Homo sapiens: one gene and its partner. The protein of the gene in region 1 interacts with the protein of each later gene in a pairwise test. Each region holds a gene or a part of one and is shown on either strand. Other genes may lie near its edges. The genes, in order: GOLT1B and INPP5K.

Region 1 (8,177 bases):
GAAGTGGTATGTGCCAAAGTGAGCAGGTTCTAAGTGAAGGCGTGAACAAGAAGTCTGAATGCTCATGCACCATGCTCCCCTTTGCCTCCTCCTCCTCAACCTGTAGCTATAACCTCATGGTGGGATTCAGTGTTACTAAGGGAAAAAAAAATGCAGACCTAATTTACAAAAGATTCTGCATGATATATTGTCACTACCTGAAAGTGAACAACTAAAGCACTCTAGCATCTCTCCAGAGTGATCCTGAAAAACATTGGAGATGGAAAATTCTCCCAGTCAGCAGTAAGCAGTCCACATAGTTATTCATTTTGCCAGAGGAATACATCCACACTATTATAAGCAATGGTTAATGATTGGCAGGATGGTTAGCAACTTGGAAGGTAGCAAATAGGAAAACTGGTGGCAATGAGGTCTGAGGAAGAGATATATGTATAGACCTCTCTGAATGGTCAGAGTGTGAAGGTATTTGTGTCCAATGTGAATGCTCATTAAAAACAACTTCGACAAAGTATAATCATAATTAATCAGGTAGACAAGATGACCTGGACATTGACCACACTTGTCCTTGCACAACGAAGTCAAGAACAAAGTGCCTTCTGCAACATGGACTGCCACTCACGAAGACCCATCTGGCTACATCCAGAGCTAAGTGCTCAACCTGCAAACAGCTCATACCAACCTTGAGTTCCAATGGAGGCACCATTCTCTGTGGGGACAGACAGATGCTTGATGGCAAAGTGACCGCATTGGAACCGTCTATAATGAAAGAGGCAGCACTTTGTTCTCACTGATACAGATGCTTACTCCGGATATGAATTTACCATACCTGCCTGCAGTGCTCTATCATGTCCACCATCCAGGAATTCACGGAATTCCTACTGATTGTCATCGTATTCCCCACCAAATTACTTCTGACCAAAGAACTCATTTACAGCAAACAAAGCACAACAGAAGGCTAATGTTCAAGATATTAACTGGTCTAACTATGTTCACCAACAACCTGCAGCAGCTAGCCTGAGAAAATAATGGAGTGGCATTTTGCAGACTCAATTATGCTGCCAGCTGGGTATCAGCACTTTAAGGGCTGGACTAGTAGCCTCCAGGATATGGCATGCTATACATCAGTGAATAGTGCTGTTTCTCCCATTGCCACGATTCACGGGAATCAGCGGTGGAAATGGGAGTGGCTCTTCTATTACCCTTAGTGATCCGCTAGTGAAATTTTTGCTTCCCATCCTTGAAACATCGGACTCTTGCTGGCCTAGAGGTCTTGGTTACCAAGAAAGAAATGCTTGTACCAGGGGAAAAAGCAATAGTTCCATTAAACTGGAAGTTGACTGCCACTTGGCCACTTTGGGTTCCTCATGCCAACAAATGAACAGGCAAAGAAGGCGATTACTATACTTGCTGGGGTAAGTGATCCTGACTATTAAGGGGAAATCAGATAGCTACTACACTATAGGGATAAGGAAGAGTATGTCTGGAAAGCAGAAGATCCTCTAGTGCACCTCTCAGTATTCCCTTACCTTGTGATTAAAGTTAATTGAAAACTATAATAACCAAATATAGGAAACTACTAAGGCAAGTAGTCCCCACCAAGCAAAGACCCATTACCAACTGAGAACCAAGGAATACAGAATGGGTAGTTGAAGAAGGCAGTTATAAAGTACAAACTATGATCACATGACCAATTGAAAAACAAGAACTGTAATAGCTATAAGTCTTTCTTGCTTTTTAAAATTTGTATATAAACCAAGTTTGGGTTTTTCCTTTTATTTGGTCCCTCTCCGATACATTACAGTATTACCAAGGAGGACATGATTCAGCAAGAAGAGAAATGAGCATCACCCAAAGACGAATAAAGATAATTTGTACCTGCTCTTTTGGGGAAGGGGTCAGTGTATACTCAGCAGTAAGAGAAATAGGCAAAAGCATGATTCCGCTATTGCCTTTATTTGGACACAAATAAGGTAAAAATTAGACACAAAAGGACAAATGTTATATGATTCCATTTATATGAGGTACCTAAAATAGTCAAGAAACAGAAAGTAGAATAGTGGCTATCAGGGATTAGGAGAAGAGAAGTAATGGAAAGTTACGGATTAATGAGTATAGAATTTTAGTCTGGATAGATGAAAAAGCTCTGGAGATGGATAGTGGTGACGACTGCACAACAGTCTAAATGCATTTAATGCCAATGAATTATTCACTTAATAATGGTTAGCATGGCAAAGTTTGTAATGTGTATTTTACTTCAATAAAAAAGCTGAAAAAAATCATTTCTATAATCAGAATTTTTAAAACAAACTTTTTCAAATATCATACAAACAGAAATAGAACAGAAGGAAGAAGAAAATGTAATCATTGCTACTAACCTGAAACGGACGCCATTCTTTTTCTTTCCAAATTTGTTTCTAAAATAATCCAAATTTCTTTCTAAAAATAAAAGCACAACAGTGACAACAAGTTTTTAAAAATAGTACTATTAATGATGTTCACTCAACAGTAATCTGTCATTCCTAAGCACGGAAAATGTTAGAAAGTAAATTATATATTGCAGTGACCTTTCAAATAAGAACCACATGGTTCTTTTGACACTAATTTTTTATGGAAAACTCTATATTTCAGCTTAATAACCCACAACACTCAGAACGACTAACTCTCTAGATTTCAGAGAAGTGTCCAAAGTCACATAAACGTATACATGACAAATACAGTAGCAATGACACTCAGCAAACATCCACAAGATACAAAGTGATGTAACAAAAAACAGCAAACATTCAACAGGTCTAGCACCAATTGCTATGTGACTAAATTACTATGTTAGGCAAAGTTGCATATGCTGTTCCTCCAAGCCTCTTTCCCTACCTGTAAAACTGGGAGGATGGCAATCTTATAAATAAGTTGGATAGATTCAAATGTACCAGATTAAGCAAAATACATCAACATAAATAATAAAATTAATCATCTAACATTTTATTGAGCCCTTGCGTTAAAGAATTACAATATAAGCCCAATCTTAAAAGAGAAACTGGTATTCTACAGAAAAGCTAGATTTTCTAAGTTAGAGGTGGGGGGAGGGGAAAATGGTTTGTAATGATTTCTAAGTATCTATGAATGACTAAAACCTAAGCATGCATATGGACAAGTGGAAAATGGGGCTGGAGAGTAGAAACTTTAAATTCCCCATAATCCTAAAAACACCTCTTCTATCTCTCTAATATGGACATTTTCTAAAACTAAGATGCTCTCCAAAAGTCACTTCTGCAACACCTATCCTTAGACTGCTGACCTTACGCCCTTTCTACACAGAATTCTGAAGCCACCACTAGGCCGGAAAGATAGGCTGACTCTTTTTTGCCTTGCTAAAGAATGTGGAATAACCACACCATTAAAAGAAGGCTAAATAGGAGAGTAAACCAAGGATTTCTAATTCTTGATCTATACAAACATCTCTTCACGTAATGAAAATGTAACATTCCTTCCATAGACTGTAAGGTCCTTTAGCAGGGCTGGGGTTCAATCTCTTCACCTTTGTATCCGCACAGCCCAGGAAAATGCCTTGATGTAGTGAGGGCTCAGGTTTGCTAAGGTAGCAGGGGCTGTTTCTACCCTTATGAAAAGACACAGTCTATATCCAATTCTCCCCCACGATTTTAAATGACTCCTTTGATTATGCGGTTAAAAGACTGCTCCTTCCCAAAATGATGTGATTTAACAGCAAAAGATATCTCAACATAAAATGTATCCAGAAATTGAACTACAGCAGGTCTGTCACTCAGCAGTATAAGCTAGGCATCCACAGGAAGAATGTTACAGGGTGACAGCCAGTCATCAATGTTGGAGGAAACGCCACTGAGATACCATAGGCTAAATCCTCTCTCTCCCCGCCACCTGCATTTAGAGGCAATAGTAATTTAATATTAATAACGCCCGCCCTTCCGCTACTGTGAAGCAGGGGGTGGAAGAAGCATCCCCAGTAGTATTTACCAACAAATGGCAGCTGCTAATAAACAGGCTTTGGTGGCCAATCCTCCTGCATGGAAAAGAATGGGGAGATCAGAAGACCGGTCAGCAGGCGAACGTGCCCCTAAAGGCCCGAGTTCTCAGAGCAGGGCAGTGATTAACTTTCCGGTTTCTCCTCCGCCAATGTGTGGGCGAAAGGAAGTGATCCGCTACAGACCGGCCTCGCCCTGCAGCAGGAAAGGGAAGGATGAAACAAAAAGCGCACACCCTTGACCCTTCAAAGCTGTAACAGTAGTTATCCCAGAGCCTCTCCCCACCGAGAAGCCCGGTCTAACTCTCCGGTGTTTGACTGTCCGGTGTCCGACTGTCCTGTGTCCGACTCTCCGATCTCCGACTCTCGGATCTCCGACACCAAAGCACCCAGGCCTCGAGCAGATCTTTCCGCTACTCGGGAGTAAAATCTTCCCGCCAGCCAGCTGAGAGCATCCACCCTTCCGGGTCGGTCCGTTCAGCCAATCACAGATAACTCCCTTCTCTAATTGGTCAAGGGGTGTGGTCACCATGCGCGTCACCGAACAACATTACGAGTTATTGGTTGAGATTGGAAGCAGGTTTCGCCAATAGGAAGCGCTCTTAAAGCGGCAGTGAGGGTGGCTGCGTGTTTCCGGAAGACGTGGCGGCTCTCGCCTGGGCTGTTTCCCGGCTTCATTTCTCCCGACTCAGCTTCCCACCCTGGGCTTTCCGAGGTGCTGTCGCCGCTGTCCCCACCACTGCAGCCATGATCTCCTTAACGGACACGCAGAGTAAGCACCTGCTCCGGGGCCCCCGCCTCGAGCCGCGCACACCCATCGCCCGGCTGGGTCTCGCCCCTCCGCCGGGGTCAATGAATGAAGCTCTGGGTTGGGGGCGGTGGCCTGCGAGACAGAGCTAGGGCTGCTGGGACCCTAAGGGGCTGCCTTCGGGATGCCGGGGCTAGACTTGGACTGGCGGACCTGACCTGGGAGAAGAGTCTGTGGGGCAGGGTGGGACGCCCTATGTTGGGAGGGGAGCTTTAGCCCAGAGTCTGTCTCATTCCAGGGTCGCGCTGATCTCCTCATCCCCAGTGAGATGGGCGCTTTGTTCTAGGGGCTTGCCACAAGAGAAAGTTTGCGTGGTGCCCGCGGCCCACTCTCGGGATCGTTTATGCGCATGACACACTTCGGGTCCTCTACAAGTCCCTGGCTGGCTGGTTATTTGGGAGGCGGTATTTTAAATGTCACCTACAGTAGGCTCTTTTTGAAAATGTCCTTACGCTTAAATGTGGCATTTTGAATATTCGCTTTTTGCCAGTACTGTAAGCAACCTTTTAGAAGTCTCTTGAAACATTCTCACTTTTCTACCTGCTAAAGTTTCAAGCAGTAGAGAAAAGCCACTTTGTGTGCCATTAAAGGATATATTTCGTTAGTATTGTATATTGTGCTTTGTGGCTTGTTTTATTATTTTAGCATCGCTCTCTGCCTGCCACAGAGTTCTCCAGGCCTATTTCATCTCTAAAGCTAGCATTGATATCGGTTTCCTTTTCTTTCATTATAATATTTCCACTTTCCTACTGCTTTTTGTTAATATTAATAATTTTTGTATTTATGTCTGCCCAAGCTCTGTACCTCATATTTTGATGTTCATAAGAGTCTCTTTTTGTCTCACTTTGCTTTATCTGCCACGCCTTTCATTTCACTCCAGTTAACTCAGATTTTCAATATTTTAAGACTTAAACAGTGAATTGAAGTGAAAAATAGAAGTTTATTTAAAATGCCCTATTTTAAAGTGGAGTCTTCTTGTGGAGATTCAAGTCATGGCAGACCAACTTCACAGAGCTTCTAAGGCCTCCTACACACACTGCCACCCCCCAATCAGGCTGTCTTCCCTCCTGAGGCTGGACTGGGGCTGCCTCTTGGGGCCACCTGCCCCAAGGTTGCCGCCCACTTTGGTCCATTGGCCTGGCCTGTTCTGATCAAAGAAAATAAAAGTGTAGTCTTGAGGGGATAGGAATCTAGTGTAATAATAATTACTGGCAATTATATAAAGGTATTTTCTTTCAGTTAACCATGTGCTTTCATGTGAATCATTATGCATAATTCTTATAAGAGCCCTGTAAGGCTCACAGAAGCATGCCCCTTTCATAAGTTAAATGAGGCACAAAAGAAATTGAGTGCATGGTCAAAGAAAAAGTGACAGAAACAAAACTTGATCCCAGGTGTGCTGGCTCAGAAACCTTTTGCACTGTACCCCACTATCACCTAAGAAGACTTGATATAAACTTTATTTGAGATCTGAGAATAATCTGTGCATAGAAATTATATTTTTGAAGACTTAATATAGTGATGAGTGCCTGCTTTATAAAAACAAGAGAGTGGGTTTGGACTATGGGCATTCTCCCTGAGAAGCATTCTCCTCACTTCATTAAATTTTGTGAGGGCAATGAAATTTTACTCTTTGCTGTTCACTTGTCACATGTTTTAGGTGAAACAGTGGATTGAAACATAAAACGATTAGTGAACCAAATGCATTTTGGATTTCAAATTGTGTTTGTGTGTGAGTGTGTTTAACTGCAGGGATTGGCCATCATTCAAGTGATTTGTCAGGATTATTCTGGGATTTTGGTTTTTAGAGAGTGGCCAAGCACTGCTCAGAGTAGAATAAATGGAAATTCATGATTATTTTAAGGCATTCTAGGACTTTCCTCACCGCCCCAAAAAAGACAAGACTTATTCAGAGGGGCGGAGGAGGGGCATGCTGCCTCTAAATCTTCATTTCATCACATTGTCTAAAAGCCTAGTGTGATAATTGCATTCTCCAGTACAGTTAATGTTCAATTGAATTCTTGCTTGACTTCTGTTTTTCAAAGGGTATGGTAAGAGAGACAATGCTGCTTTTAAAAAATTGTGAATAAGATATCAAAATGCTAACAGTGTTTGCCATTAGATTATGCGTGTCTTTCCTTATACAATTTCCACAGTATGCTCCTTATGTTAGACAGATTCGTTTTATTAAATTGTTTTTATATTTTTTTTAACTTGTGGACAGTTTTTTAAACATGTGGGAGGAGTGAAGGAAGATAAGTTTGTTTTACTGGATATGATTCCGATGGGAAGAAGGCAGCTCTATGCAAGGCTTTTGATAGCCAGAGGGCTTATGAATGCATACGGATAGGGAAAAGGGGGATCCTGGAGGTGAGAAAAAGGCACAATGAGGCCAATTTGAGACTTTTGACCAGTGTGGATCAGGAGCTACTTGGCAATGTCATTGCCAGTACCAGTTGTGGCAAAGATGTTTTGGGCAATGTCTCCCGCTGGACTGTACTGGATAAAGTAGTGGAATATTTTGGTTCCCATGTTGTAGTTGTAGGACCATTGTCTGTGGAGTGAGAAGACTGGTTGAATGCTGACTTCACAGACTGTTGTACCTGCCTCCATACCACCAGCACCCACACACACATTTTTGCTGCTTCTATGATCAAGAACAAGTTACTGAATTACCTCTAGGTCCATGGTTGCACATATGAACCATAGGACCAGTGCTACCTTTTACCTCACAATTTTGTTAAAGAAATTATAAAATTTTTGTATAAACACTTCATAACACGGTAAACCATACTCAGAGATTGGCCTTTTTGACCGCAGTTAATTTTTAATAGTTCTACTTGGCTATGTTAGATAACAAGCTAATATTAAACTTGAATCCCCTAAAAGATGCGTCCCCCAGAAGTTCAGAATACTCCAGTGTCCTTGAGTTTCATGTAACCAAACACCTTTAACCTAAAAAATAAAAATTCTGTGGGAAGAGGTATGGCATTAATGGTTAAGCACATGAGCTTTGGATTCAAAAGACCTTGGTTCGAATGCTTATCTAGAAGTGTGGCTTTAGGCAACTTAAGTCAACTCTCTAAACTTCAATTTCCTCCATCTTTAAAAAGATGTAATTATACCTGCATTCCAGTAGTATTGGAAGTATTAAGTTATATATAAGGTATGTGAAGCACTTCATAAGGCCTAATTCGTGGTAAATTCTCAGTACATAGTAGGTGTCTTTCCATATACCTTCCTTTCTAAAAACATCTCAGAATTTTTATGTAATCATCAAGGTTATTTGTGAAATGATAGAAATTAGTCATCTTCAACTAACAAAGCTGCCGATGTTTAATCCTAACTACTAAATAGTTATTTAATAGAATT
Region 2 (10,279 bases), on another chromosome or scaffold:
TGCCCTTTTCTCCCATCCCCCTGTACCCTCTGCCATTCCAGATCTCCAGCTGCTGCAGGTACTCCTCATCGTGTGCCTAGGACTCATGCTAGGCTGTTCCTGGTCTCTGCAGGGTCTGTAGCTCCTGCCCGCTCTGTGCTCCGCACAGTCTGAGGCTTCTTGAAGAGCTGCTGTGACTGACTGTTCCACTAAAGACATCTGTAGGTCTCTCTTTCCTGAGCCTCTGACTGGATCCAGTGTCATTGAGGCCCCTTATCTAGTTTTCTTGCTTCCCTAAGACTTGTAAGCTGAGGTGGAAAATATCCAACTGATGACTTTTCCCCAGAGAGTACTCTTTATTTTTCACGGAATACTACGCAGACATAGAGCATAGACTCTTAAGAGAGATGTCGAGAAACCTGTTACTTAAAAACTCCTTGGCCGGGCGCGGTGGCTCAGGCCTGTAATCCCAGCACTTTGGGAGGCTGAGGCGGGCGGATCACCTGAGAGATCAGGAGTTCAGGACCAGCCTGGCCAACATGGTGAAACCCCGTCTCTACTAAAAATACAAAAGTTAGCCAGATGTGGTGGCACACACCTGTAATCCCAGCTACTTGGGAGGTTGAGGCAGGAGAACTGCTGGAACCTGGGAGGCGGAGGCTGCGATGAGCCGAGATCATCCCAGTCCACTCCAGCCTGGGCAACAGAGTGAGACTCAGTCTCAAAAAAAAAAAAAAAAAAAGTCTCGCTGAAGTGCTTGGCAAAATTGGCTTGCTCCAGGGATCTGCTAGGGAGGAGAGAGGAAGGGAATATGGTGGTGTTATCTCTTTTATTTTTTAAATTCCTCTGCCCTTGTAGTGCTGAGGCCTATCACAAGGTGAAATCTGAATCCCTAGGATCTTCCTGGTGGTCTTAGGAACACTTGGGGTGAGAAGTAGGGATCAGAAGTTGCCGACTGAGCCATAGATGATGACAGAGGGGTGTGGGTGGCTGGAGGAGCTGATGGAATTAATACATTCCTGGCAGTTCAGCCCCCTAACCCTTCGCTAGCCTGACCTGAAATTCTTGGGCTCCCTTTGGCGACTCTGCTATATCAGCAGCACCAGTGCTGCCGGGTGTGGGTGGCTGTGAGCCAGCATGGAGGACCCAGTCCGGGGTGGGGATTTCTTGCTTCAGCAGAGAAAGGTGAGGACGGACAGCTGATGGTTCAGTATCCCCATTCCCTCCACCAGCACAGAAACCCACATTTCCCATCATGAGTGTGGCAGATTGCAGTGACATAAGCAGGCCTAGACCCCGTGCACTATCTTTTTTTTTTTTCTTTTGAGACAGAGTCTCACTCTGTCACCCAGGCTGGAGTGCAGTGGCACAATGTCGGCTCACTGCAACCTCTGCCTCGTGGGTTCAAGCAATTCTCCTGCCTCAGCCTCCAGAGTAGCTGGGATTACAGGCGCCTGCCACCATGCTGGGCTAATTTTTGTACTTTTAGTAGAGACGGGGTTTCACCATGTTGGCCAGGCTTGTCTCGAACTCCCGACCTCAGGTGATCCGCCCACCTCGGCCGCCCAAAGTGCTGTGATGACAACGTGTGAGCCTCTGCGCCCAGCCGACCCCGTGCACTATCTTATCCTCCTTCCTCCATGACTTCCCTCTGCATCCCTTCCGCAGCATACACGTCGTGACTTGGAACGTGGCTTCGGCAGCGCCCCCTCTAGATCTCAGTGACCTGCTTCAGCTGAACAACCGGAACCTCAATCTTGACATATATGTTATTGGGTAGGTATCTGCAGGCTCCTTCGCCCATCCCTGACCAGTCCCAGGTTTCCCTGTGGGAAGCACTGTGACCTGCCCTCCTCCGCTCTGGAGTCTGAAGGCTGGGAGCTTTCAGCCTGCTTCAGGGACAGTCCCATGTCTCTGGTCCCGGGTCAGCAACGGCAAAGGGGGCTGGAGATCAGCAGGCAGGGGAGGGAGACCTCATGGCCATCAGAACTCAGGCCTTGAAAGTCCGTGAAGATGGTATCAAATATCTGTGGCAGGGGAAGTAGCCTGGAGGCCAGGGGCCAAGCCTCTGAGCTGGCATGGTCAGTTTGCAGGAATTGAACTCTGGGATCATAAGCCTCCTTTCCGATGCTGCCTTTAATGACTCGTGGAGCAGTTTCCTCATGGATGTGCTTTCCCCTCTGAGCTTCATCAAGGTAACTTGCCAGTTCATTGGCACTTGACAACTGTGTTTTCACATCTCCACTGACCCCTGCTTGTTGGGTCTGATGTGTTCCTCTTACTCCTGCTCAGCCTTTCATGCTGTTTCCCATTTGTTTAAAGGGCTAAACCTCCCTTCCACCTGGACCCCGGGGCCCCTGCCTGCCTTCGCCTTTCTGAGGGAGCTGGAGTCTCCAGGGGTTGGGTTAACACCTGGATATGTTTCAGCTTGGGAAGATTCTGAGGGGAGGTGCAGCAGGGCTTGTCATCACCTCAGTGCTGGCCGCTGCCCCAGCCACCAGTCTCTACTCAAATGCCCATCCTGAAGTCTCTGAGTGTAATCATACGGCTGTCATTTATCAAGTGCTTACTTGTTGTTACACATCATAAGTAGCTCTTTATAGTATATATGTTATTTTAAAATCTTAACAAGTCTGTTGAAATAGAGATATTTTACAGAGAAAACCATGGCTCAGAAGCCACATGCGCTATCTGGGATTTGGATCCAGATCTCTCAAACTTCATAACCCAAGTTCTTAACTACTAATACCTTATTGCTATGCTGGTGAACTCTAAGACTGACAGATCTTAGGCGTGGCTAGCCTGCTGGTGTCATAGGGTATCCTCAGGTCATACGGGACGTGCACTTCAGATTCTGGGGGTCCAGAGGTTAGGAGAGGGGAGTCAGGTGTGGTGGGTACTTTGGGCGGCTTTCTTAGTCTGAGAGACCAGTATACTCTGGGGTGTCTTTAGACAGTAGGAGAGTCCACAGGAAGGCCCTGGGTTGCCAGATCTTCACCTTCACCTTGGTTCTGCCCTGCACACCTGAGGAATGAAACACACTCCCATTCACAGCACCTGGTATACAGCTGCTTAGAAATACCAGAATTCCCTCTTTCCCCTTCCTGGATGACTCTTGTTCTTCAGAATGGATTCTGTCAGCCTAGTTTGCCTGGGGGTACTGAGGCAAGAGCTGTGTGTCCTTTGGAGGGGGAGCAGAATGGGGAGGAAAGAATCTAAGGTTTAGAACTCCTGCTGAGGATAGAAAACACCAGCCCGAGTCCTTGGTTCCCTCCACATCAAACCCAGAGGCCTCCTTCTGTAGATAGGGAGCTAGATCCTTACAGAGGACACAACCACTTCTCTCTCACCCGCCACTCCCTTCCCAAGACTGCAGGCCTCCTTGCTTCTCGGCTGACTGGCAAAGGATTGGTAGGATGGAATTGAGCCAAGGAAATTAGCTCAACTTGTGGCAGAGACACAGCCCTTTCTACCCATGTGGCCTACTGAGATTGGGAGGCCAGACTGAGGGCCTGGCACCCAAAATGAATGCCCTTCTTTCCCCAGCCAAGAATCAGGGTGGATGGGTGAGCTCCGTGCATTTGCCAGCTATAGACTGAGAAGGGCTGACCCCCTTCCACTGCTCCAGGGCCCCCAGCCACCTCCTGCTAGTCCTTTCTTCGCTCCTCCTACTTCATTTCCTCCAACTAGAACTTTCCCTAGAACTCTCCTGCTTTTCCCACAGCCCCACCCTTTCTCCCAGTCTAACTCTGTCCTGCCCCGACCCCACCCTCCCCGCCCCCACTTCCCTGCTGCTCCTTCACAAAGCGAGCCAGTGTCTTTGTGGTGGAACCCAGTGGCCTAAAGCTGCTTTGTGGGTGGGGATTAAGCCTGAAACTTTTCCTGAGTCTTTATCAGTCCCCTTGCTTCAATCCTGACCCTGGGAGTCAGCCCCTCATGGTCCAGCCCGTCCTCCATCCCTGTTGGCACGTGTGCTTGGGTGTAGGAGAGAGAAGACTGGGGAGGAAGTAGGCTTGAGGACACACCTGTAGCAACCTCTGGCCCACCTGAAGTTCTGATGCCTCCCTTACCCAGTGCTGGGTTTGAGGTTCCCCCTGCTTCGACTCCGCTATGCCAGGGCTCGTGGCCTGCAGGATCAAGTTTCATAATTCCTGGAAGGCCCCAGTACACGCTCCCCACCCGGGGATTTCCTCCTTGGCCTCCACACTTCATTCTCCGGAAACGGCTCCTCGGGTGCCGGTGGTAGACAGCCTGAACCTGAGAGGGAGAGCTACTGGCTGCGGCCCATTCCCACCCCACCTTTTGCAGCTGCAGATAGTAGGGATCTTGGCAGTCCTAGCCCTTTGATGTTGTTTTACAATACAGGTAGCCCTACTGGTTCCTTAGCCTCCCTAAATCTTAGTTCCTCAACTACAAAACAGGGACGGTGATTCCTTACAGGCTTGGCAGGAGTAAATGAGAGAGGAGGCACTTGAGCAGATGTTAGCTATTCTCCCTAGCCTGTGCACATGTGTCCTTACCCACTGGCATTCCATGGGCGTTGCCTTCATGGACACCCAGCTGCACGCAGTATATAGTTATGGGGTTTGGGGGGAGCATTTTCTTATTTTTTTTTCACTGAGCTATAATGTACACAGAAAAGCATGCAGAAATTCAGTGTACACTTTGATGGGTTTTTGCATATACCCATGTTACCATCAGCCACATCTAGATAAAGAGCAGGCCGAGTACAGTGGCTCATGCCTGTAATCCCAGCACTTTGGGATTATAGAGGCAGGGAGATTGCTTGAACCCAGGAGTTCAAGACCACCCTGGGCAATATGGCAAGACCCTGTCTCTACAAAACAAACAAAAATAGCCGGGCATGTTGGTGCACACCTGTGGTCCTAGCTACTCAGGAGGCTGAGGTGGGAGGATTGCCTGAGCCCAGGATGTCAAGGCTGCAGCGAGCCGTGATTGCACCACTGCACTCCAGCCTGGTAGACAGAGCGAAATCCTGTCTCTAAGTAAAAAGGGAGGAATGGGGGCAGCTGGTGGATAAAGAACATTTCCAAGGAGAGAGGGAGGAAGGGAAGGGGATAAAGAAGAGCATTTCCCAGTATCCTGGAAACCTCTTATGTTCCTTCCTTTTAAGAATGCTTGGCCGGGCGCGGTGGCTCACGCCTACAATCCCAGCACTTTGAGAGGCCAAGGCAGGCAGATCACCTGAGGTCGAGAGTTCAAGACCAGCCTGGCCAACACGGTGAAACCCCATCTCTACTAAAAATACAAGACCTGGTGGTGGGCGCCTGTAATCCCAGCTACTTGGGAAGCTGAGACAGGAGAATCACCTGAACCCAGGAGGTGGAGGTTGCAGTGAGCCGAGACCACGCCATTGCACTCCAGCCTGGGCGACAGAGCGAGACTCCGTCTCAAAAAAAAAAGAATGCTGAAACCAAAAAATAATAGCTTTCAGATAATCCCCACAGCATCTATGAGATGGATTCCTACTTTATCAATGAGAAAATACACTGAGAAACTGCCTCAATGTCAAATACTAAGAATCAGAGCCAGGGTTTGAACCCAGATCTAACTTCAAAGCCAGTATCCTTAGCTTATCTTCTCTTCCCGCCACCCGCACGCCTAGGCGCAGAATCGAAAACCTCAGCCCCCAGAATGTATCATTTGGCAGCTGAGAAGAAGAATGGAAAGGCTTGAAACTCTGAGATTCAAACTGGGATATCGTAGACCCTGGAGCAGGACACTGCATGTAGCTGAGGGCTCTCTAGAGTCCCTAGCACGGAGCTTGGAAGGGATGCACTTGGCCTGTGTGGTTTAATGAGCGACCTTTGCCCTCTCTCTCCTGCAGGTCTCCCATGTCCGTATGCAGGGGATCCTCTTACTGGTCTTTGCCAAGTATCAGCATTTGCCCTATATCCAGATTCTGTCTACTAAATCCACCCCCACTGGCCTGTTTGGGTACTGGGTAAGGACTGAGCTATTGTCTGAGTCGTGAGCTGGGAAGGGCTGGGAACTGTGGAGCTGGGCAAAAGAAAAAGGAAGTGAAAGGAATCTTGGTCCTCTGTCCAGCCCAATGCATGTTTGTTCTTTTGCCTCAGAGTGGGCTTGCTATCCCTGAGGCCAGGCGAGGCGAGCTGGGCTCTGTGCATGGAGAGATCACCCTGGGAAGCTTAGTTACTGTCCCTAGGAGACCCTGCAGGAAGTGAGACTGTCTGCCCTCAGGTCCAGGATGTGGAAAGAGGGGTGTGTCCAACCCGAGTAGCTTCCCACTCTTCTGTTGACCTGTTCTACCAGGGGAACAAAGGTGGAGTCAACATCTGCCTGAAGCTTTATGGCTACTATGTCAGCATCATCAACTGCCACCTGCCTCCCCACATTTCCAACAATTACCAGCGGCTGGAGCACTTTGACCGGATCCTGGAGATGCAGAATTGTGAGGGGCGAGACATCCCAAACATCCTGGACCACGAGTGAGCCTGGGTCTGGCAGACCGTTCCCCGCCCTCTGCCCCACGCTAACCCCCACTAACCCCCACGAGTGAGCCTGGGTCTGCAGACCGCTCCCCGCCCTCTGCCCCACGCTGACCCCCACGAGTGAGCCTGGGTCTGCAGACTGTTCCCCGCCCTCTGCCCCACGCTGACCGCCACGAGTGAGCCTGGGTCTGCAGACTGTTCCCCGCCCTCTGCCCCACGCTGACCCCCACGAGTGAGCCTGGGTCTGCAGACCGTTCCCCGCCCTCTGCCCCACGCTGACCGCCACGAGTGAGCCTGGGTCTGCAGACCGTTCCCCGCCCTCTGCCCCACGCTGACCCCCACGAGTGAGCCTGGGTCTGCAGACTGTTCCCCGCCCTCTGCCCCAGCTGACCGCCACGAGTGAGCCTGGGTCTGCAGACTGTTCCCCGCCCTCTGCCCCACGCTAACCCAAGCCAGCATCCTCTGCTCCATCACGGATCCCCCAGCCAGTGTCGTCAGTGTTCTGGCTCCCACCCTCTCCCTGACCCTTCCCTGGTGCCCATCTGCTGTCTCCCCTTGCTTTGCCTGCCTGGGGTCCCCTTCCTCCAGCCCGTCTGTCTTGCTTAGAAACCCTGAACACTTGGGAACAGGTCAAGGACCTTGTGGCTCCTGAGGTCACCAGGAGGGCTTCTCAGCCTTTCCTCGTGACCAGTTAAGGAGAGGAAGGAAGGGCCACAGCCTGCTCTGTGTTTGCCAGAGCAGGCTCTTTGGTAGGTCTCTCCGGTTTGAATGGTGGTTTAGGAGCCATGAGAACAGTTCCAGAGGACCCACGCGTGCCCTGGCGTCTCACTTGCCCCTCAGGTTTTCTGTGCCCCAGCAGCCCTTGGGTTGAGCAGGCTGAGCCACCTGGTGATCTCCCTTCCCCGACTTCATCACAAATCCTCAGGCTGCCCTCCTTTTTTTCTGAAGCCTCATTATCTGGTTTGGAGACATGAACTTTCGGATCGAGGACTTTGGGTTGCACTTTGTTCGGGAATCCATTAAAAATCGGTGCTACGGTGGCCTGTGGGAGAAGGACCAGGTATCCAGTGAGGGGAGGGTCCCAGGGGGTGATCTGAGCCCACGGTGGGGGCCATGTGAGCTGTGCAGAGTGTTGCTAGATGCCCTCGCTGCTGTTTTCTTTTGCCCAGGTCTGGTGGGGGAGGCTGTCTAGCAGGGCTTCGCATCCAGGGGTGAGGCAGCCACGCCTGATCTTCACATGGAAAAGCCAGGGTAACAGACCCTGGATGTGCTTTAGAATAGAGAGTCAGATACAAAGCATGAAATGAATTATTTAAAAAAGAAGAATAGGGGCCGGGCACGGTGGCTTATGCCTGTAATTCCAGCACTCTGGGAGGCCGAGGTGGGTGGATCACCTGAGGTCGGGGGTTTGAGACCAGCCTGACCAACTTGGAGAAACCTCATCTCTACTAAAAATACAAAAAAAAATTCGCCGGGCGTGGTGGCACGTGCCTGTAATCCCAGCTACTCGGGAGGCTGAGGTAGGGGAATCGCTTGAACCCGGGAGGCAGAGGTTGCAGTGAGCAGAGATAGCGCCATTGCACTCCAGCCTGGGCAACAAAAGCAAAACTCCATCTCAAAAAAAAAAAAAGAAGAAGAATAGGGAACCAGAAGGGCTTTGCACCAGGTACCATCATGCGTCAGCCCATCGTGTCCCTGTCGTCTTTCCCATCCCCAGCCTCGTTTCCCTCTTGGAGGGTGAGGTGCCCCTTTGGAGAACCCTGGCTTCCCCAGGTTCCCCTCTGACACATGTCTGCTAGTGATCTCCCCTAGAGATGGAATTCCAAGTTGGGTCCCTGCAGTCTAAGGACTGGGAAACGGCAGACAGCTGCCTCCCCTGGGCCTTGGTAATGTTTCCGAAAGGATTCGCCTGCTTTCTGGTGGGAGTGGGCTGCTGAGTAGTCACTGGGGCAGTGAGGAATTGGAGTGGCATTGCTTGACTCTTGCCCCATTTGTGACGGCATGTGCTGATCCCTTGAATGGAGTGTGGTACTGGGCCACTGGGTCGAGACTACTGGGAGACGGGGACTATGACTTTGTCTGCAGCTCAGCATTGCCAAGAAACATGACCCGCTGCTCCGGGAGTTCCAGGAGGGCCGCCTACTCTTCCCGCCCACCTACAAGTTTGATAGGAACTCCAACGACTATGACACCAGGTGAGGAGGGAGTGGGGGGCCAGAAGGTCTAGGAAGTCAGGTTACACTGACCCTGCTGGCATGGGAACTGTCTCAGAATAGAAGTGTTAGGGGGGGCAGGAATTGGTCTAGTCATCCCCTCTCCAGAGTGGCACCTCCTGTCCACTTCATGAGGCGCTGACTCGGGGAGCCGTCCCAGATCTCGAGAGAGTGGGAGGAAAGCCAGTGCCAGCAAGGGCAGGAGAGGTGTGTAGGGGGTGGGGGTGTTACAGATAGAACCAGAGGAGAGGGTGGAGCAGCTGCCTCCTGACCTAGGAGGGACTGCACTTCAGCTTCGGGAAACCCCAGACCTTCTGGTCCCCAAACGGGGCAGAAAGCTTGGCCCAGCCAGTTACTGGTATTAAGGACGCCTGCCCCAGCCTGTGAATGGGTCAGGTCTTGTGTGAGAAGGTGAAGTAGTAGGTAGAGAGTTTCATCAGGATCAGTGTAGAGATCATGAGTCTGGTAGTTAGAAGCACGGCTCTGTCTTATTTTAGCCAAAGCGTTTAGGCCTTGATTTTGTCAGCTATAAGGTGTGGATGAGAAGAGCACACACCTCATGAGGCTGAGGACTGAAGGAGGCCGTCACCCAGTAACCATGGGAGAGAACGGCTATTGTGACTTTTCGATTCATGCCGGCTGGGCGCGGTGGCTCACACCTGTAATCCCAGCACTTTGGGAGGGCCGAGGCAGGTGGATCACTGAAGGTCAGGAGTTTGAGACCAGCCTGACCAACATGGTAAAACCCCATCTCTACTAAAAATTCAAAAATTAGCTGGGCATGGTAGCGCGCACCTGTAATCCCAGCTACTCAGGAAGCTGAGGCAGGAGAATTGCTTGAACCCAAGAGGCAGAGGTTGCCGTGAGCCGAGATCTCACCGCTGCACTCCAGCCTGGGTGACAGAGCGAGACTCCGTCTCAAAAAAATAATAATAAAATAAATAGATTCATGTCTTCCCGTGATAGATTTACTAAAAACCTTTCTAAGAAGCTGAGAAGGGGCCAAATAACCACCAAAACCTGAGAAAGAACCACTGGCAACATGTCCCTGACTCATTTTGGGGCAAGGAACCTAATCTCTTTGAAGAAAAGAAGAGCCCCTTACATGTCATGAGGGTCTTTGTTCCAGCGGGAGCAGCTTGTTCATTCCTCCTAGCTGGAGTGTCTCTGTGAGGGAGGCGGGAGGTACCGGCAGGGCAGCCCAGGGCTTTGGGATTTAGCCAGGGAAGAAATATCTCCACAGCCAGACCAAGACAAGAGGTAGAACTCAAGCTTGGTTCTGGAAGTGTTACAGCAAAGCCAAAATATCCTTGTCAAGGAAAGGGGGAAAGAGTGAGCCGATTCAGCAGTGTGGAGCAAGACAGGGTAGGGTCGTGAGCAGGGCCGTCCACAGAAGAGGAGGCAGTGGACGCTGGGGAAGGGACCCGCCCTGGGCAACAGAGCAGGCAGGAAAGGAGGTAAGAGGCCAGGCTGCAGCAGGATGGCCGGCCCAGATCAACAGCTGCAGGGAGACTGCCAGTCTCTGCAGCCATCCATTGGAAACAAGAGTCCTGGTGGGAGCTGTAAGGACAGGGTAGGGCCTTGGGTGGGGAGGGGGTGCTTGAAGCCAGGAGT

The links.
Region 2: the proteins of GOLT1B (region 1) and INPP5K interact in binary tests that used the Homo sapiens proteins (3 or more experiments, as listed by UniProt).

The regions. Positions count from the first base shown.
Region 1 is NC_000012.12:21,497,180-21,505,356, forward strand, and holds the start of GOLT1B (vesicle transport protein GOT1B), read left to right. Parts: upstream 1-4,609; 5' UTR 4,610-4,744; coding exon 4,745-4,769; intron 4,770-8,177. Other genes in the region: RECQL (ATP-dependent DNA helicase Q1), read right to left, coding at 2,376-2,391. UniProt on the Homo sapiens protein: May be involved in fusion of ER-derived transport vesicles with the Golgi complex.
Region 2 is NC_000017.11:1,505,348-1,515,626, reverse strand, and holds part of INPP5K (inositol polyphosphate 5-phosphatase K), read left to right. Parts: intron 1-41; exon of another isoform or gene 42-200; intron 201-1,647; coding exon 1,648-1,755; intron 1,756-2,065; coding exon 2,066-2,174; intron 2,175-5,827; coding exon 5,828-5,944; intron 5,945-6,273; coding exon 6,274-6,449; intron 6,450-7,400; coding exon 7,401-7,512; intron 7,513-8,537; coding exon 8,538-8,647; intron 8,648-10,279. UniProt on the Homo sapiens protein: Inositol 5-phosphatase which acts on inositol 1,4,5-trisphosphate, inositol 1,3,4,5-tetrakisphosphate, phosphatidylinositol 4,5-bisphosphate and phosphatidylinositol 3,4,5-trisphosphate.